Linked DNA regions of Homo sapiens. The protein of the gene in region 1 interacts with the protein of each later gene in a pairwise test. Each region holds a gene or a part of one and is shown in the gene's direction. Other genes may lie near its edges.

The links.
Region 2: the proteins of SCARF1 (region 1) and KCNJ6 interact in binary tests that used the Homo sapiens proteins (3 or more experiments, as listed by UniProt).
Region 3: the proteins of SCARF1 (region 1) and HSD17B13 interact in binary tests that used the Homo sapiens proteins (3 or more experiments, as listed by UniProt).
Region 4: the proteins of SCARF1 (region 1) and GPR37L1 interact in binary tests that used the Homo sapiens proteins (3 or more experiments, as listed by UniProt).

The regions. Positions count from the first base shown.
Region 1 is NC_000017.11:1,635,416-1,643,092, reverse strand, and holds part of SCARF1 (scavenger receptor class F member 1 isoform 1 precursor), read left to right. Parts: intron 1-2,426; coding exon 2,427-2,645; intron 2,646-3,052; coding exon 3,053-3,181; intron 3,182-3,350; coding exon 3,351-3,454; intron 3,455-4,166; coding exon 4,167-4,287; intron 4,288-6,030; coding exon 6,031-6,152; intron 6,153-6,237; coding exon 6,238-6,384; intron 6,385-7,475; coding exon 7,476-7,677. UniProt on the Homo sapiens protein: Mediates the binding and degradation of acetylated low density lipoprotein (Ac-LDL). Mediates heterophilic interactions, suggesting a function as adhesion protein. Plays a role in the regulation of neurite-like outgrowth.
Region 2 is NC_000021.9:37,606,446-37,612,707, reverse strand, and holds the end of KCNJ6 (G protein-activated inward rectifier potassium channel 2), read left to right. Parts: 3' UTR 1-5,335; downstream 5,336-6,262. UniProt on the Homo sapiens protein: Inward rectifier potassium channels are characterized by a greater tendency to allow potassium to flow into the cell rather than out of it.
Region 3 is NC_000004.12:87,312,433-87,320,109, reverse strand, and holds part of HSD17B13 (17-beta-hydroxysteroid dehydrogenase 13 isoform A precursor), read left to right. Parts: intron 1-1,673; coding exon 1,674-1,781; intron 1,782-2,886; coding exon 2,887-3,018; intron 3,019-4,510; coding exon 4,511-4,617; intron 4,618-6,149; coding exon 6,150-6,287; intron 6,288-7,677. UniProt on the Homo sapiens protein: Plays a pivotal role in hepatic lipid metabolism. In vitro, it catalyzes the oxidation of a variety of lipid substrates, including 17beta-estradiol, retinol, retinal, and leukotriene B4.
Region 4 is NC_000001.11:202,125,240-202,132,916, forward strand, and holds part of GPR37L1 (G-protein coupled receptor 37-like 1 precursor), read left to right. Parts: intron 1-302; exon of another isoform or gene 303-479; intron 480-2,501; coding exon 2,502-3,317; 3' UTR 3,318-7,677. UniProt on the Homo sapiens protein: G-protein coupled receptor. Has been shown to bind the neuroprotective and glioprotective factor prosaposin (PSAP), leading to endocytosis followed by an ERK phosphorylation cascade. However, other studies have shown that prosaposin does not increase activity.

The DNA.
Region 1 (7,677 bases):
CCGCGGCGGGGCGCCGGGAGGAGGGGTCAGGGCTTCGCGGTGCTCCTCTCAAAAAACATACAAAGCAGAGGAACGAGAAAGGGGAAAAGTCGGATAGGTGGGGTGGCTCACACCTGTAATCCCAGCACTTTGGGAGGCTGAGGCGGGTGCATCACCTGAGGTCAGGAGTTCGAGACCATCCTGGCCAACATGCTGAAACCTCGTCTCTACTAAAAACACAAAAATTAGCCGGGCTGCGCCTGTAGTCCCAGGTATTCGGTAGGCTGAGACAGGAGAATCGCTTGAGCCCTGGAGGCGGAGGTTGCAGTGAGCCGAGGTCGCACCACTGCACTCCAGCCTGGGCCAGAGAGCAAGACTCCGTCTCAAACAAAACAAAACAAAAACTTTTAAAAACGCTTTGTTGCCCCAGGTCCAGCCTCACCTGCTCATTTCATTGATTACTGCTGTGCAAAATATACTAGCACTGCTAGCAAGCCATATGTAGGTAATAAGTGGATCGAGTCCAACAATGATAGACTGGGTTAAGAAAATGTGGCACATATACACCATGGAATACTATGCAGCCATAAAAAATGATGAGTTCATGTCCTTTGTAGGGACATGGAAGAAATTGGAAATCATCATTCTCAGTAAACTATCGCGAGAACAAAAAACCAAACACCGCATATTCTCACTCATAGGTGGGAGTTGAACAATGGAATCACATGGACACAGGAAGGGGAATATCACACTCTGGGGACTGTTGTGGGGTGGGGGGAGGGGGGAGGGATAGCATTGGCAGATATACTTAATGCTAGATGACGAGCTAGTGGGTGCAGCACACCAACATGGCACATGTATACGTATGTAACTAACCTGCACAATGTGCACATGTACCCTAAAACTTAAAGTATAATAATAAAAAAATATATATAAATATATTTAAAAAAAGAAAATTAAAAAAATGGTTTCTTACAAAAAAAATAATAAATAAGTGGATCGAGTGACCAAGGGTCCTGAGCAAGGTCCCTTTAGGGCTCAGTGGCTTTCAAACTTTGACTGGCTGCACTCACAGTAAGAAATTTCATCCCTGGCTGGGCGCGGTGGCTCACGCCTGTAATCCCAGCACTTTGAGAGGCCGAGGCGGGCGGATCACCTGAGGTCAGGAGTTCGAGACCAGCCTGGCTAACATGGTGAAACCTCGTCTCTACTAAAAATACAAAAATTAGCCGGGCATGGTGTTGGGCGCCTGTAATCCCAGCTACTTGGGAGGCTGAGGCAGGAGAATCACTTGAACCCGGGAGGCGGAGGTTGCAGTGAGCCAAGATCGCGCCACTGCACGCCAGCCTGGGCGACAGAGTGAGACTCAGTCTTGAAGAAAATAATAATAAAATAAAATAAGAAATAAAAATGCTGGTCAGGATCAGCTAAATGGCTTTTATAAACTGCCCTTCTTCTCCCCTACTAATGGGTCTGACCCAAGTATATGATCCCAGCTAGTTAAGCATCTGAGGGAGAAACTTCAGGTAACTATTAGGCATCAATGGGAAATTAAGATATGGCAAATGTGAAATTATATTGGTGACAACAGTGGTCTCCAACCTTTTGGCACCAGGGACTGGTTTCATGGCAGACAATTTTTCTATTATTACACTGTAATCTATAATGAAATAATAATATGACTCACCATAATATAGAATCAGTGGGAGCCCTGAGCTTGCTTTCCCGCAGCTCGAGGGTCCCATCTGGGGGTGATGGGAGACAGTGACAGATCATCAGGCATTAGATCCTCGTAAAGAGCATGGAACCTGGACCCTCCCGTGCGCAGTTCACAATAGGACTGGCGCTCCTATGAGAATCTGAGGCCACCACTGATCTGGCTGGCAGCGGAGCTCAGGCGGTCAGGCTCCCCTGCTGGTCATCTCTACGCTGTCGCCCAGTTCCTAACATGCCACGGACTAGTACCAGTCCATGGCCCAGGGTTTGAGGACCCCTGGGTGAAAACACTTTACATTTTTTGCATTTCGTGTGATGGGGTAGAAGACACTACTGAGTCCCATTCATGCCAGACCTGGGGACGGCTCAGTGTGGAAAAAGGAAAAGTGAAAAGAGCAGGAGGGAAGGCCTGGCAGACCTCGCAAATGGGACTCAGAGCTTGGTGGTGACTCGCCTGCCCTGGCTGGGCTGCTGGCTCCTGATGGTCCTGGGACCCAGGGAAAGACGGTCACAGAGCAGATGCCTGGAAGGAAAGGGATGGGATCCTGTAAGAGCCCTCATTTGTCCTCATTGTACAACGTGGGGAAACTGAGGCTCAAACCTGCCTGACCCAGGTGGGACCCGAACACTCTCCAGGGCCCCCGAAGGCCTGCGTGGAGTACAGGGGTAGGAGGGGGTGGGCGCTCCATCCATCCACCCCCACTGTTCCCACGAAGCCCTTCTCTTCCCAGCTGTGGCCGCTGCAAACACAATGAGCCGTGCTCTCCAGACACAGGCAGCTGTGAGTCCTGCGAGCCGGGCTGGAACGGGACCCAGTGCCAGCAGCCCTGCCTGCCTGGCACCTTTGGCGAGAGCTGCGAACAGCAGTGCCCTCACTGCCGACATGGGGAGGCCTGTGAGCCAGATACTGGCCACTGTCAGCGCTGTGACCCTGGCTGGCTGGGGCCCAGGTGAGGGCACCATTCTGTTCAGGGTGGGGTACACCTTCCCCCAGGACCCTCAGCTCAGCGGCTCTCTCCGAGAGCACCACCCTCCCCGACACACAGGTTCATGCGGCCCCAGGGGCCTCCCTCCTGTTGAAGACTGGGGGAGAGCAGTGGGTTCTGGGGGGGCCTGGGCAGGATCCCAGCTCCCTCCCCTCTGAGGCTTCCTGCCCTCCTCGCCCTCTGGGGACTTGTAGTCTGTCACCTGCTGGATTTGGCCCCAAGTTCAAGGCCCTATTTGCACCTGAGCTTCACTGCTGAGGAGTGGCCAGTTGGGTCCTTGAGTCCAGGAGCGTGGGGCGGAGGGGTGGGGCCCCACAGTGGGGGCCAGGCCTGCCTTGGTCTCCCCTTCCCCGAGTCTTGCCTCACCCCAGGTGTGAAGACCCCTGCCCCACTGGTACCTTTGGGGAAGACTGTGGCTCTACCTGCCCCACCTGTGTTCAGGGGTCCTGTGATACTGTGACAGGGGACTGTGTCTGCAGTGCCGGCTACTGGGGGCCCAGGTAAGGATGGGGATCCCGGGGGCGGGAGAGTGCCAGGGGCCTAGGTCAGGGCTCTGTGCAGCATTTCCTGAACTTCCCTGGACAGTGCCCAGAAATCTCCCTGCCCGTCTCCTGCCTGCCTCCCCCACTTCACCCAGCCCTCAGCCTGCCTCTCCATGTCACTCCATAGCTGCAACGCCTCCTGCCCAGCCGGTTTCCATGGAAACAACTGCTCAGTTCCTTGTGAATGCCCAGAGGGACTCTGCCACCCTGTCTCTGGGTCCTGCCAGCCAGGTAAGGTGGAAGAAGGCTGCGGGGTGCAGTAGCCAGGGAAAGGCGGGCCCTTCACATGGGCTCCAGGGCAAGTTCCTCACCAGGGAGTCTGGGCCCACTTCAGAGATATTCTTTTTTTTTTTTTTTTTTCCCTTAAGACGAGGTCTTGCTCTGTCACCCAGGCCAGAGTGCAGTGGTGTGATGTCAGCTCACTGCAACCTCCACCTCCCAGGTTCAAGCCATTCTCCCATCTCAGCCTCTCGAGTAGCTGGGATTACAGGCGCACGCCTCCATGCCTGGCTAATTTTTATATTTTAGTAGAGACAGGGTTTCACCATGTTGGCCAGGCTGGTCTCAAGCTCCTGACCTCAGGTGATCTGCCCACCTCGGCCTCCCAAAGTGCTGGGATTACAGACGTGAGCCACTGTGCCCGGCCCAGAGACATTCTTTATACCTGAGCTCTGTGTGGATGCTCTGGGGCCCCCTGAAGATGTGACAGAGCCCCCGCCCCTGCGAAACCAGGCTAGAGCCGTGAAATGGGCAGCGGGGTGGCTGGACACTGACATGGCCTCAGGGGCAAGAACCTGTGGAGGGGACACGCCAGCAGAGGGGCTGCCCGGAGGCAGGGAGTGACCCCCAGGAAGAAGCTTCTGGGTAGCAGGCAACTCAGAGCAAAGACAGGATGTGTAGGAGACAGGAAGGCCTGAATATCCCCCGTTTCTGGCTCCCCCAGGCTCTGGCAGTCGGGACACTGCCCTCATCGCGGGCAGCCTTGTGCCTCTGCTGCTGCTCTTCCTGGGCCTTGCCTGCTGTGCCTGCTGCTGCTGGGCCCCCCGATCAGACCTCAAGGACAGGTGAACGCCAGCCCGTCCCTTCCCCACACAGCTCAGGCCACAGGGTGGGAGCAGGGGGGCATCTGGTTTCCTTGTGGGGTGGGGAGGGCTGGCCTTGTTGCCCACGTGGGTCAGAGGTGATGGGGGTGGGGAGGGCTGGCCTTGTCGCCCCCGTGGGTCAGAGGTGATGGGGGTGGGGAGGGCTGGCCTTGTCGCCCACGTAGGTCAGAGGTGATGGAGGTAGTTGGCAGTGCCCGTGGCCTGGAGACACTGGAGACACCGGGTCAGCTGCCTGCCCTCCTCGGAAGCCTTCAATGAGGAAGTTTCTGAGTTGCATGGGCACCAGGCTGGCGAACCGGAGCCTGCAGCGGGAGGCAGAAAGCTGACACCGGCGGGGACCAGAGGAGGAGGGCTGGGACCACGGAAGGAGCAGCCCGGCTCTGGGCCAGGAGGGAAAGAGACCAGGCCTCAGATGGCCCACGAAGGAAAGAGACATCAATGTCTGTGCAGTGGTTTAGCAGAGAGTGTAGCTGCCTGAGAGACGGAGAGGGGAGGAAGGGTTGGGCTGGTGGGGCCCGCGCAGGGGGCTTACGCAGAGCTTTGTTCCTTTATGAAACCTCGTCACATTCCAGGCTCCTTTGAGACTCACAGCAGCGTGGAGGTTTGGAACAGGGAGTGTGGGGCCGGGAGGATAAATGTCCTCAATTCCCAGAGGACATTGAGGCCCAAGGTGATCTAGTTGGTACTGGCACACAGGAAGCCCCTCTCCACCTTTTTGGACTCTTTGTCTGGTGCTCTCTTACTAGTTCCTGCCCTAGTCCAATAGCACATCCTCCTCTGTGCTTGTGCGGCATTCACAGAGGAGCAGATACAGTTGCCCCTGGCCCAGGGCATAGAGCCCAGGGTGGGAAGAAGCCCCTCGCAGGGACACGAGGACAGGTGCAAAGGCTGTTGGAGGAACAGTGAAGAGCAGAGCAGTCTCCTCCACATGTGGGGGTAGAGCAGAGTGGGAACAAGGGAAGGCTTCCTGGAGGGGGTGTCATTTGAGACAGGTGCGCCGGGCGCAGTGACTCACGCCTGTAATCCCAGCACTTTGGGAGGCCAAGGTGAGTGGATCACCTGAGGTCAGGAGTTCAAGACCAGCCTGGCCAACATGGTGAAACCCCGTCTCTACTAAAAATACAAAATTAGCCGGGTGTGGTGGTGCACGCCTGTAATCCCAGCTACTCAGGAGGCTGAGGCAGGAGAATCACTTGAATCCAGGAGGCGAAGGTTGCGGTGAGCCAAGATCGTACCACTGCACTCCAGCCTGGGCAACAAAAGCGAGACTCTGTCCCAAAAATAGAGAGAGAGAGAGAGAGAGAAACGTGAGCTGAGGCTCAGCTAGGATGATAATAACAAAGACCTGCCAGGTCCTGCAAAAAGCTCAGATAGATGATAGATAGATGGATAGATATAGATAGATAGATAGATAGATAGATAGATAGATAGATAGATAGGATCTGTTTTACAGATGCGGAAACTGAGGCCTAGGGAGGTGAAGTGTGAACCAGAGTTGTTACTCGGCTGTCTGACTCTAGAGCCACTCTTTGTTCTGTGGCAGGCCTGAATTGTGGGCTCAATCATTTGGATTTTATTCTGTAGTCAATAGAGAGCCACTGAAGCCACTGAAGTAGAGGCAGTCACCCTGTCACACCCTGCCAAGGTGACCCAGGTCACCGTGGGTCTCATGTACTGACCAGTGTCCCTACCCTCCTCCCTCAGGCCAGCGAGAGATGGAGCTACCGTGTCCAGGATGAAGCTGCAGGTCTGGGGGACACTGACCAGCTTGGGCTCCACGCTGCCCTGCCGTTCCCTCAGCTCCCACAAGCTACCCTGGGTGACAGGTCAGTGGGCGCTGGGGGCCGGGGTCTGGGATTGGACAGGGCTTTGCATCAGGTCCTGCAGGCGCCTGATCTGGAGTCTCTACAGTCTCACATCACGACCCGGAGGTCCCCTTCAACCACAGCTTCATCGAGCCGCCCTCTGCCGGCTGGGCCACTGATGACTCCTTCTCATCCGATCCTGAGTCTGGAGAGGCAGATGAGGTTCCTGCCTACTGTGTGCCACCCCAAGAAGGTAGCCCCCCAACAGCCCACATAGCCCCTGAGCAGCCCTGCCCACCACGACCCCCTCTTTAGTCCTCCAGCAAAGTTATTTATTTTTATTTTTTTTTGAGACTGGGTCTTGCTCTGTCGCCAGGCTGGAGTGCAGTGGTGCGATCTCAGCTCACTGCAACCTCTGCCTCCCGGGTTCAAGTGATTCCCCTGCCTCAGCCTCCCAAATAGCTGGGATTACAGGCGTGCACCACCACACACGGCTAATTTTTATATTTTAGTAGAGACCGGGTTTCACCGTGTTAGCCAGGATCGTGATCCACCCGCCTCAGCCTCCCAGAGTGCTGGGATTACAGGCATGAGCCACTGCGCCTGGCCAGCAAACAGTTATTAAGGGCCCATTTTGTGTTAGTCACTGTTCTTGGCTCCGGGCATGCAAGAGATAACAAGACAGATTCCTATCCTCACCAGGCTTAGAGTCAGATGGGCAGTCATCAGACAATGACAGGACACAGTGATATGTGTTTCCATGGGGGACATACAAGTAGGGACTCATTTGCTAGCCATGTTGGGGTGACTGGGGTCAGGGACGATGTGTGTGGCATCCCAGTCGAGTCTAGCAGAATCAGTAGGAGTTGGCCAAGTGAAAGTCAGGGAGAGGAGGGAATGGTGTTTCAGGAAGATGGAACAGCATACACAAAGGCCCAGAGGTGAGAGGGATGTGGCTGTGTGCCATCGAAAGAGTTTTAGCTTGGTAAGAGTGTGACAGTATTTCAAAGTAGGGAGAGGTGGTGAGAAAAGAGTATAGAGACCAGGTGTGGTGACTCACACCTGTGATCCCAGCACTTTGGGAGGCTGAGGCGGGAGGACTGCTTGAGGCCAGGGGTTTGATACCAGCCTGGCCAACATAGTGAGACCCCATCTCTACAATTAAAAAAAAAAAAAGTGTAGAAGTAACAGTGTCTACCTGAATTGGTCCTTCTGCCACTCTCCTCATCCTTGCCCTCTTCCTTGCCCTATTTTTGAGGCCTCCTGGAAGATGCTGAGCTGTGGGTAGGATGCATTGGGGTGGCCAGTTCAGCTCCAGCCAAGCTCTTCTGTCTCCTCTGCCAGGGATGGTCCCTGTGGCCCAGGCAGGGTCGTCAGAGGCCAGCCTGGCTGCAGGTGCTTTCCCGCCCCCTGAGGACGCCTCCACGCCATTCGCCATCCCGCGCACCTCCAGCCTAGCTCGGGCCAAGCGGCCATCGGTCTCCTTCGCGGAAGGTACCAAGTTTGCACCACAGAGTCGCCGAAGCTCAGGGGAGCTCTCCAGCCC
Region 2 (6,262 bases), on another chromosome or scaffold:
TGTGCAGCTATTTCAACACCGTTTGTTGAAAAGACCCTCTTTGCCGCACTGTTTTGCCTGTGCTCCTTTGCCAAGGATCAGTTAACTATATTTGTGTGGGTCTGTTTCTCAGCTCTCCATTCTGTTCCACTGATCTATTTGTCTATTCCTTCACCAACACCACATCGTCTTGAGTACTGTAGCTTTCTTTCTCCATATAAACTGCAGACTCAGTTTTTTGGTACCAACAAAATAACTTGCTGAGATTTTTATTGGGATTGTATTTAATCTACAGAGGAAGCTGGGAAGTGACATCTTGACAATATTGAGTCCCTCCATGAAATGGAATATCTCTGTATTTACTTAGTTCTTCTTTGATATCATTCACCAGTTTTGTAGTTTTCCTCATGTAGATCTTATACATATTGTTAGATTTATACCTTAAGTACTTCATTTCAAGGGATACTAATTTAAATAATCATGTGCTTTTAATTTCAAATTTCACTTATTCATTGCCGGTATATAGGAAAACAATTGACTTTGTATATTAACTTTGAATCCTAAAATCTTGCTATAATCCCTTATTAGTTCCAGGAAGGTTCTGGGGCTTGTTTTTGTTTTGTTTTTTGGTCAGTTATTTCAGATTTTCTACATAGATGATCATGTCATCTGTAAACAAAGACAAAGTTTTATTTCTTCTTTCTTCCCAATCTATATATTTTTATTTCCTTTCCTTGTCTTATTGCATCAGCCAGGACTTCCAGTATCATGTTGAAAAGCAGTAGTGATGGGGACACCTTTTTTTTCCTGATCTTAGTGAGACAGCTTCAGGTTTCTCACCATCACGCCATTTAGTATGATGTTAGCTGTAAGGTTTTTTTTTTAGATATTGTTTATCAGGTTGAGGGGCTTCTCCTCTATTCCTGCTTTACTGAGTGTTTTTATCATGAAAGACTGTTTGGATTTTTCTGCATCTGTTGATATGATCATGCAATTTTTCTTCTTTTGCCTGTTGATATTCATTACATTAGTTGATCTTTGAATGTTGAACCAGCCTTATATACCTAGGACAAATTCCACCTGGTCATGGTGTTTAATTATTTTCATATATTGTTGGACTTGATTTGCTAATATTTTGTTGAGGATTTCTGCATCTATGCTTATGACAGGTATTGGTCTGTAGTTTTCTTGTAATGTCTTTGTCTGGTTTTGGTATTAAGGTGATGCTGGATTCATAGAATGAGTTAGCAAGTGTTCTCTCTGCTTCTAGCTTTTGAAAGAGATTGTAGATAATCAGTATCATTTCTTCCTTAAGTCTTTGGTAGAATTCACCAGTGAACCCATCTGGGCCAAGTGCTTTCTGGTTGGGGAGGTTACTAACCATTGATTCAAATTATTTAACAGAGATATACCTATTCAGATTGTCTATTTGCTCTTGTGTGAGTTTTGACAAATTCTATTTTTCAAGGAATTGGTTCATTTCATCTACATTATCAAATTTGTGGGTATAAAGTCATTCATAAAATTCCTTCATTATCTTTTATTATCCTTTTAACCTCCATGGGATTGCTAGTAACGTCCCCGCTCTCATTTCTGATAGTAGTAATTTGTGTTCTTTCTCTTTTTTTCTTAGTTAGCATGCCTTGAGACTTATGGAGCTTATTGATCTTTTCAAAGAATCAACTTTGTTTCTATTTATTTTATTGATTTCCTATTTTCAATTTCGTGAATTTTTAATCTAATTTTAATTATTTCTTCTCATTGGCTTACTTTGGGTTTAATTTGCTCTTTTTTTCTACTTTTTTAAAATGGAAACTTAAATGATTGATTTCAGATCTTCTTTTGTGCTATCTGCATTCAATGTTATAAATTTCCCTTTAAGCATTGTTTTTATTGCATCCCACAAATTATAATAAGCTATGTTTTTATTTTCATTTATTTCAAAATATTTTTTCACTTATCTTGAGATTTCTTCTTTGACCCATGATATTTACACGTGTGTTGTTTAATCTCCAAGTATTTTGGCATTTTCCAGCTACCTTTCTGTTACTGATTTCTAGCTTAATTCCATTGTTATCTAAGAGCAAACATTGTAGGACTTGTATTCCTTTTTTTTTTTTTTTTTTTTTTAAGACAGAGTCTCACTCTGTTGCCCAGGCTGGAGTAGAGTGGCATGATCTTGGCTCACTGCAACCTCTGCCTCCGGGGTTCAAGCGATTCTCCTGCCTCAGCCTCCCAAGTAGTTGGGACTACAGGTGCCCACCACCAAACCTGGCTAATTTTTGTATTTTTAATAGAGATGGGGTTTCAGCATGTTGGCCAGGCTGGTCTTGAACTCCTGATCCCAAGTGATCTGAGAATTTCTATTCTTTTAAATGTGTTAAGGTATGTTTTATGACCCAGAATGCAGTCTAACTTGATGAACATTCCATGCAAGCTTAAGCAAAAAGACTAATCTGCTGTAGTTTCCTCATCTTTTTCAACAAACATTTGAACCCCATAGTCTCTGCTTTAATAATTCTAGTATCCATTCCAACCTACACCACCATCAGTTCTAGACTGTACCTCTACACTAAATGACCCCAGATGGTTCAGCTTTAAGTCTCAGCTGTTTTCATCATTTAACTGATTCCCTTGCTGGCAGCAGGGAAATTAACTACCAGCCACACACTTGTCTCCAACAGCACCCACCGACCACGTCCTGCTCCCCTGTCATTACCACCACTAAACCCGGTAGCAGAGAGATGAGCTGTGAGGTAGGTGCCTTCTAGATAAATGAGGTGCTACTGGACATGCACTGTGGTCTTCTCTGCAGTAGAAAAATGTCCAAGGAAGGTCAGCATCATTGATAGAAAATAAATGTGAGGCTGCATCTCGCCAGCTCATCCATGAGCAATTCCTTCAGCTCCAGCAGGCTACTGACAATTTGCTTTTAACCCAAATCCAGCTCTACCCTCCCTAAAGCATGCACCTAGGGCCCCAGTCAGAAAAACAAAACAAAAACTAAACCAGACAGGATAATTAAGGAGGCAAAAAGCTTAAACCATAATATTTTAATTAAGCTGATTTATTTTAACCGTAGCACTACTGCTTTATTTTAGTTATATACCAGTAATGGAAAATAGTGGCCACTTTTCATTATTAATCATAAGATAATTCATTGTATTTGTCTTTCCTAATAAAATGGCATTATATTAAGGCCCAAAATGTTTACTATGGCCCAGTAAAATATAGGGTTGTTCTGTGAGCTATTTCTTAGGATAGAAAATTATTCCAGAAAGCTATTAGTTCAAAAGTCTCTAGCAGTGCCAAGGTTTCAATAGTCTCTTTAATTTTGAATCTATGCGATTGAAGATAAGACTGCATCTAGTTTGGGGGTTGCATGTTTGTGGACATTCATGTTTCTATGTACCTGGAACTTCTTATTCTCACCATCACACAGAATTTTCAAGAACTAGTTAAGCAAAGAAAGCAAAGCCCAGCAGGTGTCAGAATTGGGTCCCCAAGCTGAGGGTCATTAGGGTGCATGTCAGTGTGCCAACTCCAATATCCACACCTAGAGAACGCACATCTTCCCAAAAGAAATGAAGCACAGATGATACTTGATCCTCAACTTTGTCTCCAGAAATTTTTTCAGGAACTTGAGTTCTTTATCAAATGCTCACATCCTACAGAGAAATAAAGTGTTCCATTTTCAAGGTTCATGAAGCTCGTCAATGCTGGGAGCAGGCACACACTTGTATTTTTATACTCAGGGATCCCAACAGGCAACTAAAACTAGACAAGGACAAAACTCCACTCAAAATATTCTGAAAGTTAGCTGATGCCCCATATTTTATTACTCCAAATGTGTATTCACTTGCCTGAGTGCTGGCCATGAGCACTCAGTGAACACTTGCAGTACAGTGAGTGATGTCCTTGACAAGTTACTATGAAGACTCTGAGAAAAAGTAACATCCCCCACTGTCCTCAACAAGCCTGTAATCCCATGGCTGCCAGCCCTTACCATGCAACAACACTGCGCTAAGTGCATCGAACCACACAAAACCCTGTGAGAAAATACTGCTTCCCACTTCACACGTGAAGTAACTGAGTCTAGTTTTAGAAATACCTAAACGAAGAGGGACAGGCACAACAAATTTGCTGGAATGTAAAGAAAGTAGATCAGTTTCTGCGTAAGCAGTAAGAAATGGCCTCATGAGGAAGAAAGGGACATTTGCCCTGACATTTCTCAAAGACTGCTTAGGTTTTGGAGACAGAGATCCAAGGGCAGGCAAGCACAATGGTTCATGCCTGTAATTCCAGCACTTTGAGAGGCCAAGGTGGGAGGATTGCTTGAGCCCAGGAATTCAAGATTAGCCTGTGCAACACAGCAAGACCCCATCTCTATTTTAAAAAGAGAGAGAGAGATCCAAAAGCAAAGGCATTTCAGTTTGCAAGGCCAGCATGGGAGAGGGTCTTAAAACAGAAACACACAAGGTAAGATTGGGGGATGGTACCTAGACCAGCCTAGGATCATAGGATTTGATAAAATATGCATTTGGAAAACTGGTGCTAATTTATAGAGACTTAGAATTTCAGGCTAAGGACAAGGACTAAGAAACGAATAGCATGAACAGTATTATTGATAAACCCATCATTGCATCTTAAAGGCTCTGAAGTCTTTAGTATTGAATTAAAAAATAATTTTCACTGGACAAAACCAAAAGGTCTTTACACAACTGTCAAGCACTTTGAAATGATTCAGCAAAAAGCAGAATAAATCACTAGTGGAATTTCAATAGCATGTAGTTGTAAACCATCATGTGTCCAGCAAAATCACAAAACAAGAGTTTATTTTAGAAGGGACTTAGGGATATTAAGAAATATAACATACAAAATAACTAAAGTTTTCTCCAAGCAAAACCAATGATCCTTTAGGGATGAACAGAAAGAAAACAAGAAATGCTTCTTTCAAAAGTTGCTACCAAGGCTTCTAAGATTTCTTTGGAATAAAGTCACTAAGATTTGCTTCTGAGGTCAATCTTGCCAACTTTTCCACCATGCTTTTTAGGAAGGAACACCAGGTAGGGCTCAAGTACTGGTTTGGCTCCTGTCCCATTTTTTGGTCCTTTTGTAACTCCCTTTACTCAACTCCAAGTATGTCTGTGCACGGACAATGAGACGAAAGCATGCTCAATGCGAAAGCACAAATTATGTATTGAGAAATCACTACAATGCCAAATTTTTTTAAAATAAAAAAAAAATATATATATATATATATATCTTTAAGAACTCGCTGTGTTAGGGAAACTGTTTACATATTGAGGTGTTCCTCTTTTTTTGACTGGAACAATAAAAGAAAAATTTGATATGGCCTTGGTTTCTTTTTTATGTGTGTCTGTGTCCAAAGAAGTCGGCCTTTTCTACAAGTGAGAGCATGAATTGTTTCAAAGCGCAACACCCTGCCCCAGGGCCACTCAAGATGTCAGGCATATCAGGCATAACCCAAGGATAGTACCATGGGTTTGGAGTGATCTTCTCTCTTCTTCCCTCCCACTCTTCCTCTCTCTCCATCTCTTTCTTTCTCTCCCTAACTCTCTTGCTCCCTTTCCTCCTTCTCGCTCTCCCCCTCCTGTCTCTTTCCCCATCTCTCCCACAATGTTCTGCCTATGGCCAGATCCCAGCAATGGGTCAGCTCCGCTCCTTTCCACACCTACTGACCCAAGTGGGACTCCTTTGATACCTGTTTGTACCTTGCACTTCATGGAACTTGAAAAAAACGAAAGGGAATTAGGGACTTGCAGAGCAGTTGATCCTGCCCCTTGTCACAGCTCTAAGAGTCTTAATAAAAGGAGTTTGATCATTCATGATAAAGTTCCATGTTGGACTAAAGAAACATTCCGTGAGAGTTTTTCGTGTTCTCAGTGGTCCATTTTGCATGGGTTGGCTTTGCCAAACTCCAGTGCCTCGGCTCGGCTCTAACTCCTCCCCACCAGGGAATCTCGGGCTGGTGGCTTAGCCAGCTGTCCCTCTCTACCGAGGCGTGCAGGAAGCCAAGGTTTAAAATGACACGTGAGTTGCCTCATACTGTAACATGAACAAAAGTCATGTAAAAATGTGCCTAAGATAAATTCTTTCCCAGAAGCTAGTGTTTGGTGAAACAAACCCTGGGACATCGTGTGTATTTCGTCCTGATTTTCCTAATGTGCCCCTGCCAATATTACTGTTGTGCCTGGTGGAATTATTACCCTGTCCTCTGTGTCCCCCAGCCCCTGTGTGTCTGTCGCACTTGGCACCCATC
Region 3 (7,677 bases), on another chromosome or scaffold:
AGTAGCGAAATACAAAGGACCCAGAGACCACTCATTCAAGGTTTGCCCTAAATAGCAGCAACACCACTGTCATCTCAATACACGAAGAATAGGGCTTTTCAGGTATCCTTGCCTCTTTGTCACAGAGAAGAGTTTACAGATTGTGAGACGGAAAAGTATAATTTTTAAAACCTTATAATATTTTCTATAAAAGTCACCTGAGGTGAAAACTTGAAAAGAATTATAATTTTCCAGAATGTGAGTCAAGAAACATTAGAGCAATTTTATCTTAGGAAAGAGGTCTTTGAATTTAGGCTGAAAGTAAATTGCTCTGTCTCCATGTCCTATGGTTATGGGCAAGTTTGGTACATAAATGAGAAATCCATCCAGTGGCCTTGCCCATCTCACTCCCAAACACCTGAAGAATGTAATGTTATATCTCCTAGAGTAGCAGCATGGTCTCCCTATGAAAGTCCTTCTTCTTTAAGGAGACTTCTTTCCCTTCCCTCCTAGGAGGATGAGTCAGAATCATCAAGAAAAATATGATGGGCAGAGGCATACAGTTTACCATTACCACTAGTTTAGAATTACTACTTAGCACTTTACTGCCTATTACATAGTTGGTGCTCAACAAATGTATGATAAATTAATGGTTGAGTTTTTCTTTCTTCTCCATATTCATCTTCCATGACACCACGAAGAGCAATGTTTTTCAAGAATGTTCTTCAAGGTTTGAAAGTAGCCTGCTTTAGAGAAACTGCCTACTGTACAGCCTCCAACCAAGAGGAAAAGCTGAAAAAAGCATGAAGGGATTTTGTTTTGTTTTGTTTGTTTTGGTTTTAATATGAGCATTCCCTGGCAGAAAAGCCAGGGGTAATCTCATTGCAACTAGGCAATCACTCTCAAGAAATTTTCTAACAAATAAGGAGGCCAATTTTTATTTTATTTTGAGACGAAGTCCCACTCTGTCACCCAGGTTGGAGTGCAATGGAATGATTTCAGCTCACTGCAACCTCCGCCTCCCGGGTTCAAGTGATTCTCCTGTCTAAACTTCCCGAGTAGCTGGGATTACAGGCTCCCACCACCACGCCCAGCTAATTTTTTGTATTTTTAGTAGAGATGGGGTTTCACCATTTTGGCCAGACTGGTCTCAAACTCCTGACCTCAAGTGATCCACCCTCCTCGGCCTCCTAAAGTGCTGGGATTACAGGCGTGAGCCACCACACCTGACCCAGGAGGCCAATTTTTAAAAGGTTAACTAATCTTCATGTCCAAAATGAATGTTAATTGTTCATTTTGGACATGAATGTTAATTTTTTTTTTTTTTTTTTTTGAGACAGAGTCTCACTCTGTTGCCCAGGCTGGAGTCCAGTGGCACTATCTCCACTCACTGCAACTTCCTCCTCCCAGGTTCAAGCAATTATCCTGCCTCAGCCTCCCAAGTAGCTGGGATTACAGGCCCACACCATCAGGCCTGGCTAATTTTTGTATTTTTAGTAGAGACGGGGTTTCACCATGTTGGCCAGGCTGGTCTTGAACTCCTGACCTCGTGATCCGCCCTCCTCGGCCAACCAAAGTGCTGGGATTACAGGCGTGAGCCACCGCGCCTAGCCGAATGTTAATTGTCTAAAAATTTTTCTTCTCCAATGTCTTCTCCTCCACTTTTTTCGGAATTTGTTTCTTCCTAATTACAGCGCGGTGTGGAGGAAACTGCAGCTGAGTGCCGAAAACTAGGCGTCACTGCGCATGCGTATGTGGTAGACTGCAGCAACAGAGAAGAGATCTATCGCTCTCTAAATCAGGTGAGACTGCAGGTTCACAAATTTCTTCAGATTATTTTGTTTCCTAGGACGCTGACGTGGAAAATGAGAAAGGTCTTTATGACTGCCTGATTTAAATTGGATTTTAGCTGCTAACTGAAGTAGTTATGTCACCAAGGAAGGATATATACTTTTTTTCTTGTATGTAATCCACTCAGCTCTGCCCATTATTATTGTTCATATTATTAATCAATTTCATTCTGATCAGAAGTGTGAGCAGTGGCACAGAGTGACTGACAAAAGATTTATCATCAGGGAATATGGATCACTTCCTAGTTTTGTTTTAGTCCTATTAACTTTGCAGTAATTCCAGCTTCTCTTTAATTATTTCCCTTGTGAGATTTTATTTTGGTGTTAATGTAGTCTTCTGTAGAAAATGTAATATTAATAATTATTATCACAATTATTTTAAAAGAGTAAATACCAAATAATCACAATGAACTAAGCACTCTAACAAACTTTACATTTTTTAATTCAATCCCTACAATAACTCTGTAAACTTCATTTTACAGATAAGCAAATTATGACTCAGAGAGGTTAAGCCAGACCCAGGTCATGTAGTTATTAGGTTATGAAACCAGGATTTCTCAACCAGCACTTTAGACCAGGTGCGGTGGTTCACACATGTAATCCCAGCACTTTGTGAGGCCAAGGTGGAAGGATCACATGAGACCAAGAGTTCAAGACCAGCCCAGGCAACATAGTGAGACCCTATCTCTAAAAAAAAAAAAAAAAAAAAAAAAAAAAGTTTAAAGAAAAACACATTTTTAAAAAATGAACACTTTAAAAATATTTGGTCAGAATTTATATAGGAATTTATCAACATAAATGTTAATTTCACTTTACTGATAAACTTGCAAAACATGATGTGCTGGGTACTGAAATTTAGATGTTAAAAGAACAGTTTATCCCACCTTTATGACAGTGTTCCCTTGGCCTCCACGATTTGAGCTCAACAGTCTGTCTTGCCTGAACTCTGAGAGACCTCATACAATAGAAGAAAGACTCTCATCTTTGGATTATATTGGTCCCAAAACTTTGAGTTTGAATAATACACCCAGTGAAAGTGTTCTTTCAATTTCAAAAGGTGAAGAAAGAAGTGGGTGATGTAACAATCGTGGTGAATAATGCTGGGACAGTATATCCAGCCGATCTTCTCAGCACCAAGGATGAAGAGATTACCAAGACATTTGAGGTCAACATCCTAGGACATTTTTGGGTGAGTGTGAGTCAGAAACATTTCTGATTTGTGCACCTTCTCTTAAGATACATGAAACTTATAACGGAGTTCACATACTTCTGGACAGGAAACTGGCCAGATCTTTGCCTTAATCAAGAATCATTAAATTTGTTTGAGTAGAAGAGCCACAGAGTCTCTGACACAAGGACACAGAATTCAAGTGGACACAACACACCAGAATGTAAGCTACTTGGTCTGTCTTGTCCACCAGTATCTGACACAAAGCTTGGCATGTACCAGGAGCTCAACAAATGTTTGTGGAGGTTTGTTAAGGGTTGTCAGTGTACATCTTTTCAATGCTGTCACTTGTGACTTCATTTTTTTCCCTCCACACCATGATTTTGTAATGTGTCCTCATTTTGTGGAATTTTAGAATGGAAAGGACATCAGAAGTAATTACTTGGATGTATATAGGATCGAGGACACTTTTGGACGAGACTCTGAGGCAAGTGTTCTAGATCCATGGGGTGCTGGAACTGAGAAATGCAGCTATACAGACCTCATATAATTGGTTAGTTTTGTGGGAGATGGAAATATCAACTTCAACTGCCTTTGTATAGAAATTTTTATGATTAATCTTCCAGTGCCTCAATATTAGTGTAGAATCTAGGGCAGATCTGGATTCTAGAAGAAAGAAGAAAAAAAAGAGATGTGTCCCCCTTACCTTTACCAGCTCTTCACATATGTGAATTGGCTCCCATGCCCACCAAACTACACGGAGACCTCATACATTAGCTACCTATAGCTGCATAACAAATTATACAAAACTTAGTGGTTTAAAGCAACAATGTATGTTCACTATCCTCTCACAGTTTCTATGGGTTGGGAATTTGGAGGTAGCTTGGGTTGGGAGTTCTAGTTCTATGAATTTGCATAGGATTTATTAAATTCTTATAAAATTTTATTGATGTTTCTCACAAAAGAGGTTTTTGGAAAAAAAGAAAGACTTGTTTTCTGTAACATCAACATATAATATACAATATTACAAATAGGGAGATAGTGAATTCAATCATGATTCATTAGTGTGGTGTAGAACTCTCAGCTTACACTACTCAACTGTCTTAATACAGTTACACAAGATTTCACTCTTTTAATTAGAATGATAAAGCCCCAAACCAAAAAATTATATGACACCAAATTATCATAAGGAATAATTTTAGTTCTGAAAACTCTGAATTTTTCCCTTAATATTGTTTAGATGACATATCCAAAAAAGGATCTATTTGATTCCTTCTGAAGGGAAGGAGGGGGAGTACTGAGATTAGTGTTGGCATGGGGCTTACCATACCAATAAATTTGTATCTTTATTTCTATCATTTGTAAAGAATTAATCATGGAATGCTTGGAAGTATTTTATTTCATTGTATAAGTTCTCTCAAATGCCTTTCTGTCTTAACAAAAATAAAACTACCTGATTTGGAAACCTAACGTCTATGTCATTGTCTTTCTTCTTTCTGCAATGATCCTTAAGATCACAAAAGCACTTCTTCCATCGATGATGGAGAGAAATCATGGCCACATCGTCACAGTGGCTTCAGTGTGCGGCCACGAAGGGATTCCTTACCTCATCCCATATTGGTAAGTATCACATGCCAGCCATGTTATATATTTTTATACTTTGAAGGGAGCATTACACTTCAAATTGTTACCACTGGAGAGTCCTGGTTCTTGGCATCTTGAACAAAGAATTGGACAAAACTCACCAACAAAGCCAGGAAAGAATGAAGCAACAAAAGCAGAGATTTATTGAAAATGAAAGTACGCTTTACAGGGTGGGAGTGGGCCCAAGCACAGGGGCTCAAGAGCCAATTACAGAATTTTCTGGGGTTTAAATACCCCCTAGAGGTTTCCACTGGTTACTTGGTGTACGCCCTATGTAAATGAAGAGGATGAATTAAAGTTACAGAGTCGTTTACTCAGTGTACACCATATGTAAATGGAGAGGATATTTCCTGTCATAGCTGGAGTGTTTCCATTTGATTTAGTTCTAGGAAGTCAGCATGAATCGGCCTTATGTTCCCTGCCTCCAGACCCTGTTCTCCTGCCTCAAGATTACAATGCTGAGAGCAGAGTGATTTGGATTTACAGAATTTAAATTTATAGTAGTTTAGAATGATTTTTTAAATGACTTTTTCTAAAACAATGAAACCAGGTTGTAATTATATTTAAGATATTTTTAGATTTCTGCAAACTCCTCTGTAGAACAATGAGAGAAAACAGTAATGCCAAGCATGTTTCCATTGTTTCCTGGAATAAGAAACAGAAACCCCACAGACTGAGAAGCAAAACCTACAGAAGCTAAAATGAACACATGTCTATGTCATGGCCTTGGTGCCCAAGATAAGACAATCAGAGTGGTCCCTGGATCAAAACATTTTACAGTGTGCTTGTGCCATGAAAGTGTGTGTGTGTGTGTGTGTGTGTGTGTGAGAGAGAGAGAGAGAGAGAAAACGACTCTACCTGACTAAAAGTTGCAGATACCACACTCCATGCACCACCAAAGACATAAAGGGAAGGAGGTGAGAGGCGTTAAGGATGTACTGCTGTATTTGCCAAATATCCTTTCCTGTAAACTCTTCTCCAGATCCTCATAATAAAATTAAGAGGCCAAAGTGGCAACCATTGTCAAGAGAAAAACTATCAACCATTGTCAAGAGAATAACTCAGTTATTGAGAGAGAGAGGAGAAATGAGCAGAGTCCTACAGAAGTCTGTCAACACAGATACCAGTTTTGTAGAATTTCTAAATGTATTTTTCCTGATTCATATTTTTCAAAATAAAAGCAGCAATAAAAACTGATTAGAAAACAGTTTGAAGATTCAATGGAAAAACCTTACATGTAGGATGGAAAACTGAACATTAAGCCAATCAATAGAGTTATTTTTGTTCTTTTGTTATCATTGTTGTTTAAGAAATGAGATACGTTCACAATTCTGCTTAATCATGTAAGAAAATGAAAATGAATTGCCATTTATACTCTCAGAAAAATCACAAGTGGCTGATTTTTGGCTTCCACTTGTTCTTAAGCCAAATGATACCGCCTTCTCACAGAAAGCTGAGGATTGGTTTCACTCTCCCTTAGCTAACAATGCTTAATAATTCTCTTACAGTTCCAGCAAATTTGCCGCTGTTGGCTTTCACAGAGGTCTGACATCAGAACTTCAGGCCTTGGGAAAAACTGGTATCAAAACCTCATGTCTCTGCCCAGTTTTTGTGAATACTGGGTTCACCAAAAATCCAAGCACAAGGTAAGGTCAAAATCAAGTTAGAATGGGTATGTGGTATGATAAATTGATATGAAAACTAATGAGAAATGTTTAGGCAGGCCAACTAATAGAAGAAAATGAAGAAGGAAAAATAATTTTTCTTATTATTATTATTATCTTGAAATTAAAGGAATAAAGGGGGAAAACACATTAGGGACTAGCAGGAATGATCAGCCACCGATGAACTGGGATATTTATTTGTGTCCGGGAGAAAGCACATACATTTGATCACCGTTACCACCCTGTCTTTAAAATGCAAATGTTCCAAGGACCAGCAAATAAATTGAGTATCTAGCTCCTTAGTCAAGGTGAATTTCTGCAAGAACTCTTGTCTCTGGTGAGACAGGATTTGAGACCACAAGAGAAGAAAAATTAGTCCTGAAAGGAGAAGAAAAAAGCAGGAAGGTGTGGATAAGAACCCGAAAATTAAGCCATCTGCTTAACAAATTTTTCTAATCCTAGTATATATTCTGCTGCAGGTTAACAAAATATACTAAGCTTAATGATTCGAAACCAATTTTTTACTGGAAGGGAATTAATCCTAAATATATTCATTCAAAAGAACTAAACAATTCTCTGTTGAGTGCCGCCTCATTTGAGGATACTGACTCTTACAGCCTGAGTTAGCTATGTGGTCTCTGCAGCTGGAATCACTCCCTGCCACTGGAGTCCTTCATGGTGTTAGACCATAGGTACTGTTGACTAAAGAAAAAAAAAAGTTTTTGTTTTTATTTTTGTTTTTTTTGAGACAGAGTCTCACTCTGTCACCCAGGCTGGAGTACAGTGGCGCGATCTCAGCTCACCGCAACCTCCGCCTTTCTGGGTTCAAGCAATTCTCCTTCCTCAGCCTCCTGAGTATTTGGATTACAGGCGCCCACCACCACGCCTGGCTAATTTTTGTATTTTTAGTAGAGACGGGGTTTCACCATGTTGGCCAGGCTGGTCTCAAACTCCTGACCTCAGGTGTCCTACCTGCCTTGGCCTCCTAAAATGCTGGGATTACAGGAGTGAGCCACCATGCCCGGCCAAAAAAATAAGTTTTTAAAGAATTAAAGGTCATCCTGGCTAACACAGTGAAACCCCGTCTCTACTAAAAAACACAAAAAAATTAGCCGGGCGTGGTGGCGGGCGCCTGTAGTCCCAGCTGCGCGGGAGGCTGAGGCAGGAGAATGGCGTGAACCCGGGAGGCGGAGCTTGCAGTGAGCCGAGATCGCGCCACTGCACTCCAGCCTGGGCGACAGAGCGAGACTCCGTCTCAAAAAAAAAAAAAAAAAAAAAAAAAAAAAGAATTAAAGGTGTTAATTTTATTTAGAAGCCTTACTGAAGACTACAGTCGGAGGCCTATAGCCTGAGAGCAGCCCTTTAGAGAGGT
Region 4 (7,677 bases), on another chromosome or scaffold:
GAGCTGTGCATGCTTAGACACAGGACTCTGAAATTGAGCAGACTAGATTAGAAACTGGGCTTTTCCCATCACTAGCTGTGTGATTTGGTAGATTACTTTAACTACCTAAATCTCAATTTCCTCATTGGTAAATTGGGGATAATAATAATAATAGCTATCTGGGTGAATTCTTAAGGGATTAAATGGGTGATGTCTATACAGTGCTTAGAATTAAAATGGTATAGAGGAGAAGGGGAAAAGGGCAGACACATACGACCTCTTGTTTGCATGTGGCTGGTAGGTCAATGAACACCTGGCCCTACCTGACTGTGGGTCCTGACATATGTAATGTCCTCCTGGGCCAGCCCCTCCACACCTCCTGGAGGATAGAGATGATCCACAGGCTGGTAGACAGTCTTCCTTCTAGGCTGGGTGGTGGGACAGGTGGAGGGAGAAAACACTCTTTCTTTTTTTGAGACAGAGTCTCACTCTGTCACCCACAACACCCTTCTTCTTTATTTGAGACGGAGTCTCATTCTGTCACCCAGAGTGGAATGCCGTGGTGTAATCTCAGCTCATTGCAACCTCCGCCTCCCAGGTTCAAACAATCCTCCCACCTCAGCCTCCCAAGTAGCTGGTACCGCAGGCGTGTGGTACCACGCCCGGCTAATTTTTGTATTTTTGGTAGAGACAGGGTTTCATCATATTGCCCAGGCTGATCTCCAACCCCTGAGCTCAAGCAATCTGCCTGCCTTGGTCTCCCAAAGTACTGGGATTGCAGGCGTGATCCACCGCGCCCAGCAACACCCTTTTATAGGGAGGATCTCAGGATGGTCCTGAGGAGGGAGCAGGAGAGGGCAGCTTGGAATAAAACTTGAGATATTTTTGAGATGTAAAATAGAAGGGCAGGGCCGGGCACGGTGGCTCACCCCTGTAATCCCAGCACTTTGGGAGGCCGAGGTGGGCGGATCACGAGGTCAGGAGATCGAGACCATCCTGGCCAACATGGTGAAACCCCATCTCTACTAAAAGTACAAAAATTAGCTGGGTGTGGTGGCGCACACCTATAATCCCAGCTACTCGGGAGGCTGAGGCAGGAGAATCACTTGAACCCGGGAGGTGGAGGTTGCAGTGAGCTGTGATTGCGCCACTGCACTCCAGCCTGGGCGACAGAGTGAGACTCTCGGAAAAAAAAAAAAGGAGAGAGAATGGCGTTTCTACCCAAGCCTGAAGCCTGTGCCTCTGCAGGCCTGGGCTCCCCTGCCAAGAGAGGGGGTTGGGGTTTCCACAAAGAACACTTGGTGGCTGTGCTAAAAGCTGGGGATTGTGTTCCCCCAGCCAGAAGAGGGAAGAATTTGGACAGGAGGGGGATCTGAGCACAATCCCTGAGTGTGGCTGAGCAGCGTCTGATGGTGCGGGAGGGTCCCCTCTTCCTTCCTGCTCTTTGGCACTCTCCTCCCCTGCCGCTCGGGCTGCTTCCTCTTGGCTCACAGGGTGGTTTTCCACGCGCTTGATGAATAGAGTGCGGGCATGGTGGGCACTGGCTGCTCAGAGGGGGGCCACTTCCCCACACAGCCAGGTCCTGGGCTTCTCCGGACAGGGCCAGGAGCAGAAACGTGCGTGTGTGTGTGTGTGTGTGTGTGTGTGTGTGCACGCGTAAGCCATGTTCCCCAAGACCATTCATCCCAGGCATGCAGATAATGGGGTGTGGGAAGTGGAAGGACCTGCAAAGATCCAGAACTTCTATGTCTTTATCTTGGTTCTTCCTTGGAGATGATTTTCCAAAGTCTGTCAGAGAGCATCAGGGTCTATGGGAGCCAGGCCATTCATCCCCCAGCCTGAGAGGCAAAGAACAAGGGGGAAGGAGGCAGACATGTGTGTAAACCTCAGCTCCGCCATTCATCAGCAGTGTGGTCCTGGGCAATTCACTGTTCCTGCCTGAGCTTGAGCTTTTTCAATGGTAAGGTGGTTGATTGGGAATGTGATGACACGTAAAGTGCCCGACCCATAGGAAATGCTCATTAAATGGAGTTGTTACCATTATTATAATTCCTTCCTTCTTTCCTTCCTTCCTTCCTTCCTTCCTTCTTTCCTTCCTTCCTTCCTTCCTTGTTTCCACAGGGTTTTGCTCTGTCACCCAGGCTGGAGTGCAGTGTCGTGATCTTGGCTCACTGCAGCCTCAGCCTCCTAGGCTCAAGCCATCCTCCTACCTAAGTTTCCCGAGTAGTTGGGACCACAGGCGTGCCTCACCACGACAGGCTATTTTTTTGTATTTTTAGTAGAGACAGGGTTCCATCATGTTGCCCAGGCTGGCCTTGAACTCCTGGGCTCAAGTGATCTGCCTGCCTCGGCCTCTCAAAGTGCTGGGATTACAGGTGTGAGTCACCGCACCCGGCCCATTATTATAATTTCTATGCTTATCACTCAATTCATGGTCTAACTGAGCCAGAAGCCAGGTGTCCTTCCTTGTCCCCATAGATTTTGACCAAGTGCTTCTCTCTTCCCTCACATCCTGCCCACAGGTCTCCTCTCTGGGAGTCACGACTTTCAGCCTCTGTGCCCTGGGCATTGACCGCTTCCACGTGGCCACCAGCACCCTGCCCAAGGTGAGGCCCATCGAGCGGTGCCAATCCATCCTGGCCAAGTTGGCTGTCATCTGGGTGGGCTCCATGACGCTGGCTGTGCCTGAGCTCCTGCTGTGGCAGCTGGCACAGGAGCCTGCCCCCACCATGGGCACCCTGGACTCATGCATCATGAAACCCTCAGCCAGCCTGCCCGAGTCCCTGTATTCACTGGTGATGACCTACCAGAACGCCCGCATGTGGTGGTACTTTGGCTGCTACTTCTGCCTGCCCATCCTCTTCACAGTCACCTGCCAGCTGGTGACATGGCGGGTGCGAGGCCCTCCAGGGAGGAAGTCAGAGTGCAGGGCCAGCAAGCACGAGCAGTGTGAGAGCCAGCTCAACAGCACCGTGGTGGGCCTGACCGTGGTCTACGCCTTCTGCACCCTCCCAGAGAACGTCTGCAACATCGTGGTGGCCTACCTCTCCACCGAGCTGACCCGCCAGACCCTGGACCTCCTGGGCCTCATCAACCAGTTCTCCACCTTCTTCAAGGGCGCCATCACCCCAGTGCTGCTCCTTTGCATCTGCAGGCCGCTGGGCCAGGCCTTCCTGGACTGCTGCTGCTGCTGCTGCTGTGAGGAGTGCGGCGGGGCTTCGGAGGCCTCTGCTGCCAATGGGTCGGACAACAAGCTCAAGACCGAGGTGTCCTCTTCCATCTACTTCCACAAGCCCAGGGAGTCACCCCCACTCCTGCCCCTGGGCACACCTTGCTGAGGCCCCAGTAGGGGTGGGGAGGGAGGGAGAGGCCGCCACCCCCGCCGGTGTCTGCTGTTCTTTCCCCATAGGTCTTGCTTTGTTGCCTGTCTTGCTGTCTAGGGATGGACTTGGTTCCTCTTGTCAAGGTTTGGGAATGTCAAAGCCCCCTCCCCACACAGGGCCTTTCCTGTCCCTTGTGGGGCCTTCCAACCCTGTCCTTTCCACTGGTGGGCGGTGATGCTTCTAGGTCCTTAGAACTGCCCAGAAACTCTGAGTCCCAGCAGCTGGGAGCCAGAACTTTGCCTGCCCTCCCTTGGTTCCAGTCTCTCTTCTCTCTCTCTGCCTTGGAACCTGACCATACTTTAGTTGTGCCCTTCCCAGGCATCATCCTCCTACCACCAACCTGGGGCCCCATCTTGGAATGGGGGCTCCTTGGGGCCAGCCCAGTGTGGCTCACCACACTCTTCTTTTTTTTTTTTTTTTTTTTTGAGATGGAGTCTTGCTCTGTTGCCCAGGCTGGAGTACATTTGCCTGATGTCAGCTCCCTGCAACCTCCGCCTCCTGGGTTCAAGCGATTCTCCTGCCTCAGCCTCCTGAGTAGCTGGGATTACAGGTGTGCACCAACACACCCGGCTAATTTTTGTATTTGTAGAAGAGGCGGGGTTTCACCATGTTGGCCAGGCTGGTGTTGAACTCCTGACCTCAAGTGATCTGCCTGCCTTGGCCTCCCAAAGTGCTGGGATTACAGGTGTGAGCTGCCACGCCCAGCCCCAGTACACTCTTCTCTGGACCAGATCTGTCCCAGTCCTGGATGCCTCCTCCTACTGGTGCCTTCTTTTCTTCCAGAGGATTTCTCTCTCCTTCCTCCTCCTTTCTTTGGGATCCCTGGGTTGCCCTGTCCCAACCTCCTTGTTAGGTGCTTTCCCATAGGAGGCCCTTCTTGAGAAACAATAAACTAGGTAGAACTACCCCTATGCCCATCCACTTTCTTGTGCCACATTCTGGCAGGGCCCAGATGCAGCTGGGCCTTCCTGGCCTGGCAGTGCCTAGGAGAATTTCTCCTGACCTGGCCTGGCCTGTGGCTGATGTTCAGAACAGCCTTGTGGCCGATGTTCAGAACAGCCTTGTGGCCCTGGCGACTCCAAGGGTTTTATGGCTTTTGAGGGACAGAGAGGATGGAGGGCTTGGGGAGCCGGAGGACCTAAGTCCTCATCCTGGCCTAAACCCCATGCTCCTTGGGAAGTCAAAAGCCTGGAAAATATCTCCTCTGGAGCCTTCATCTCTGCTATGCCCTCTCTCCACAAAGCCCCCCTTGGAGGGAGTCCAGTGGTCTTTCCTCTGTGAGCCCCAGGGCTTCCCAGCCTTTGTCACTCTGAGAGCTGCTCTTGTTCAGTTTCTTAGAATGGACTGTTTTGCCTGTAGACGGCCCAGCTGCCTGCCCTGGCCTGCCCCCACCCAGCCCCCACTGCACCACCCTTCCCGCCAGAGCTCCCACTGCCCCCGGCAGACCCTTCATGCAGCTTCTCCTGTGGGGTCTTGCCCTTGAAGTGCCACTTCCCCCAGCCCCACCTCTGGTCCCTTCCAGAGGGCACCCTTAGCCTTGTAGGTCCCTGGGAAGCTGGCACAGCATCAACCAGAAGTGATGCCTCAGCCAGGCCACCAGTCGCTCCCCGCCTGGGAGCTCAGCTTTCCTCAGAACCACCCCCCCTGTCTGAAGCTCTGTCCTGGGTCCCACCAGACTTCTGCCCACCAGGCCTACCTACAGCATCCACATGGGGCCTCAGGAAGGGCCCCGGGGGCCCAGGGATGGGCAGGGGCAGGGTTTCCAAGCGCCTGGGGCTCCATTCTCCTCTGTCCACCCACCCACACCCCTTGGCCTCAGCCTGCCCTGTACCCAAGCTTCCCTCCCCCTCTCCTGGGGATCTTAACGGCCTTGTTCTCTCTCCCTGGCACCCACCCCCAGGGCGGGTGATGCCGCCAAGAGAGAGGGAGGCCGTTGCTAGGTGATGGCGCCGCCATGCACACACCCTTTGTGCTGGGGAGTGACACCCACCCGTTTCTCAGCAGACCTGTTGCCACGGTGACTGAAGCCCCCAGCTCTGTCTGTAGAAACTTCAGATGGGTGGGGGAGCAGGTTGGAGAGGGGACCAAAGGCAGGCCTGTCGTGCTGAAGCTCTTGGGGACCGTTTCCTCGGCATTTCCCCAACTCCTTCTCCACCCCCCTGCCAGGCCCGGAAGTACCACCAGCTTCCTAAGGGATGCAGGAAGGGGCCGGGTGAACTGAGGTGAAGTCCAGGGCAGGGGAGTCAGACCCCTCAACATCCTGTTTAGGGGTCCTCCTCCACAAAGGGTGCCCTCCACCTCTCCCTCCTGCTGGTTGGCCGGCTCAGAGATGAAGGGGGAGAGATGGTGGCTCCAAGGCTCTGCCACCGCCACCTCCCAAGCCTGCCAACGTGAATGGCTTGCAGAATCAGTCAGCAGGCCAGCGGCCTTGGGAAAGAGCCACTGTCCTCGCAGCCTGGGCCAGCTGGGGGAACAATGTAGGGTTTGTTGCTTAGGGGTCCCAGGCTTGCGGGGGGGTTGGCACATGGTGGGCAGTGGACTTGAGCTGGGATGGTCTGAGGGGGCACTGACACGCTCACCCGAGGGCAGACTTCAGACCAGCCCTCAGATCCTGATGCCAGGTTACAGGGCTGAGGGGAGCCTGAAATCCACTGGGTCTCCCTGCTCCACTTGGGAGTCACCTTCTCATCACCTATCCTGGAACTGAATGCAATTACTTAAACTCAGTCTCAGCTTCCTCATCTGTAAAATGGGAATAATCTGTCCTTCACAGAGGATTATGGTCATTTAATGAGACAAGATACATAAAGCACTTTGCATGGTGCCCCGAACCTTTTATTCCTTCCTCTCCTTTGGGAATTCAATTCTCTAGTGTTAGGAGCAGGCTTGGCCCAGGGATTCTTAAATGCATCCAGGTTTTGGCATCAAAGGGCCCCAAACATGACAATTTACCTATACTCATGGTCTGTTCCCATTCAACTTTAATAGGTTATGTGTGTTTTTTTTTTCTTAAGAGCTGGGTGGGGGGGTCTCACTATGTTGCCCAGGCTGGCTTTGAACTCCTGGGCTCAAGCAGTCCTCCTGTCTCAGCCTCCTGAGTAGCTGGGACTACAAGTGTGTACCACCATGCCTGGCTGAACACTTTTTTTTTTTTGAGACAAGATCCCACTCAGTCACTCAAGCTGAGTGCTGTGGTGTGATCACAGCTCATTGCAGCCTCCACTTCCTGGGCTCAAGCGATTCTCCTGCCTCAGCTTCCTGAGTAGCTGGGACTACAGGTGCGCACTACCACGCCTGTCTAATTTTTGATTATTTGTAGAGATAGGGTCTCACTATTTTGCCCAGGCTGGTCTCAAACTCCCAGACTCAAGTCATTCTCCTACCTCGGGCTCCCAAAGTACTGGGATTACAGGCATGAGCACCTGGCCCCTGAACAAATTCTTTAAGTCATATTAGCACCTGCTGCACGCCGGCACTGTGGAAGGAGGATGCTTGCTTGCTTCCTGGTAACCAGCTCTCTTATCTCAAACCTCAATCCTCAGTGAGGATCACAGGATCTGAGAAAGGCACCTTGGCCTGGAAACAGCCCCAGATGAGTGAGATTGCTGGTCCTCTCCCGGGATCCCAGGCCCAGGAAAACCTAGCCATGCTTGCAGTCAGGAGAGGGCAGGGGATAGAGCCCTGGCTCCCATTCAACCTCCTTAGCCAGGAGGACATGTCCCATTTTGCTTAGGAGTTGGGAGGTACCCTAGAATCACTTAGCTTCAGATGCCAAATTCCATCCACATTCTTTCCTCCAACTCTCTGGCAGTGGGGAACTGCCTCTCCAGGCAGGGAACTGCTCTGACAGGTCTGATGACTGCCTCCAGGAGGAAGCCCTGGGCACCAATGAAGGTGAGGGGCTGGAGGGCCCAGGACGGGGAGTCAAGGTCCCCACTCCCAGGACTAAGGGACAGTTTGGCTCCTTTTTCCTGCAGTGGGAGGGGTGAGAAGGGCTGGGGTGTTCTGCAAGGGCCTGCTCCATTTTCCAGGGTGAAGGAGAGGCCGAGGGAGGTGGAGCGGGAGGAGGTGGGGCTTACTGTGAAACTGGGTCAAGATGGCCTCGGATTTGAGCAGGCAGGGTCACCAGGCTCTGAGGCAGCAGCTGTGAGCAGTGCCGAGGGAGGACCAGCTCTGACGGTGAGGTCGGGTGGGGGACTAGAATCCAGCAGAGGAGCGAGGGCAGGGCTCCTACCAGGAAACCCATAGCATTGACACTAACTGAGAGGCAGCAAAGGCGGTGACACTCCCCCAGGCTCTGTGGGCCCAGCCCTAC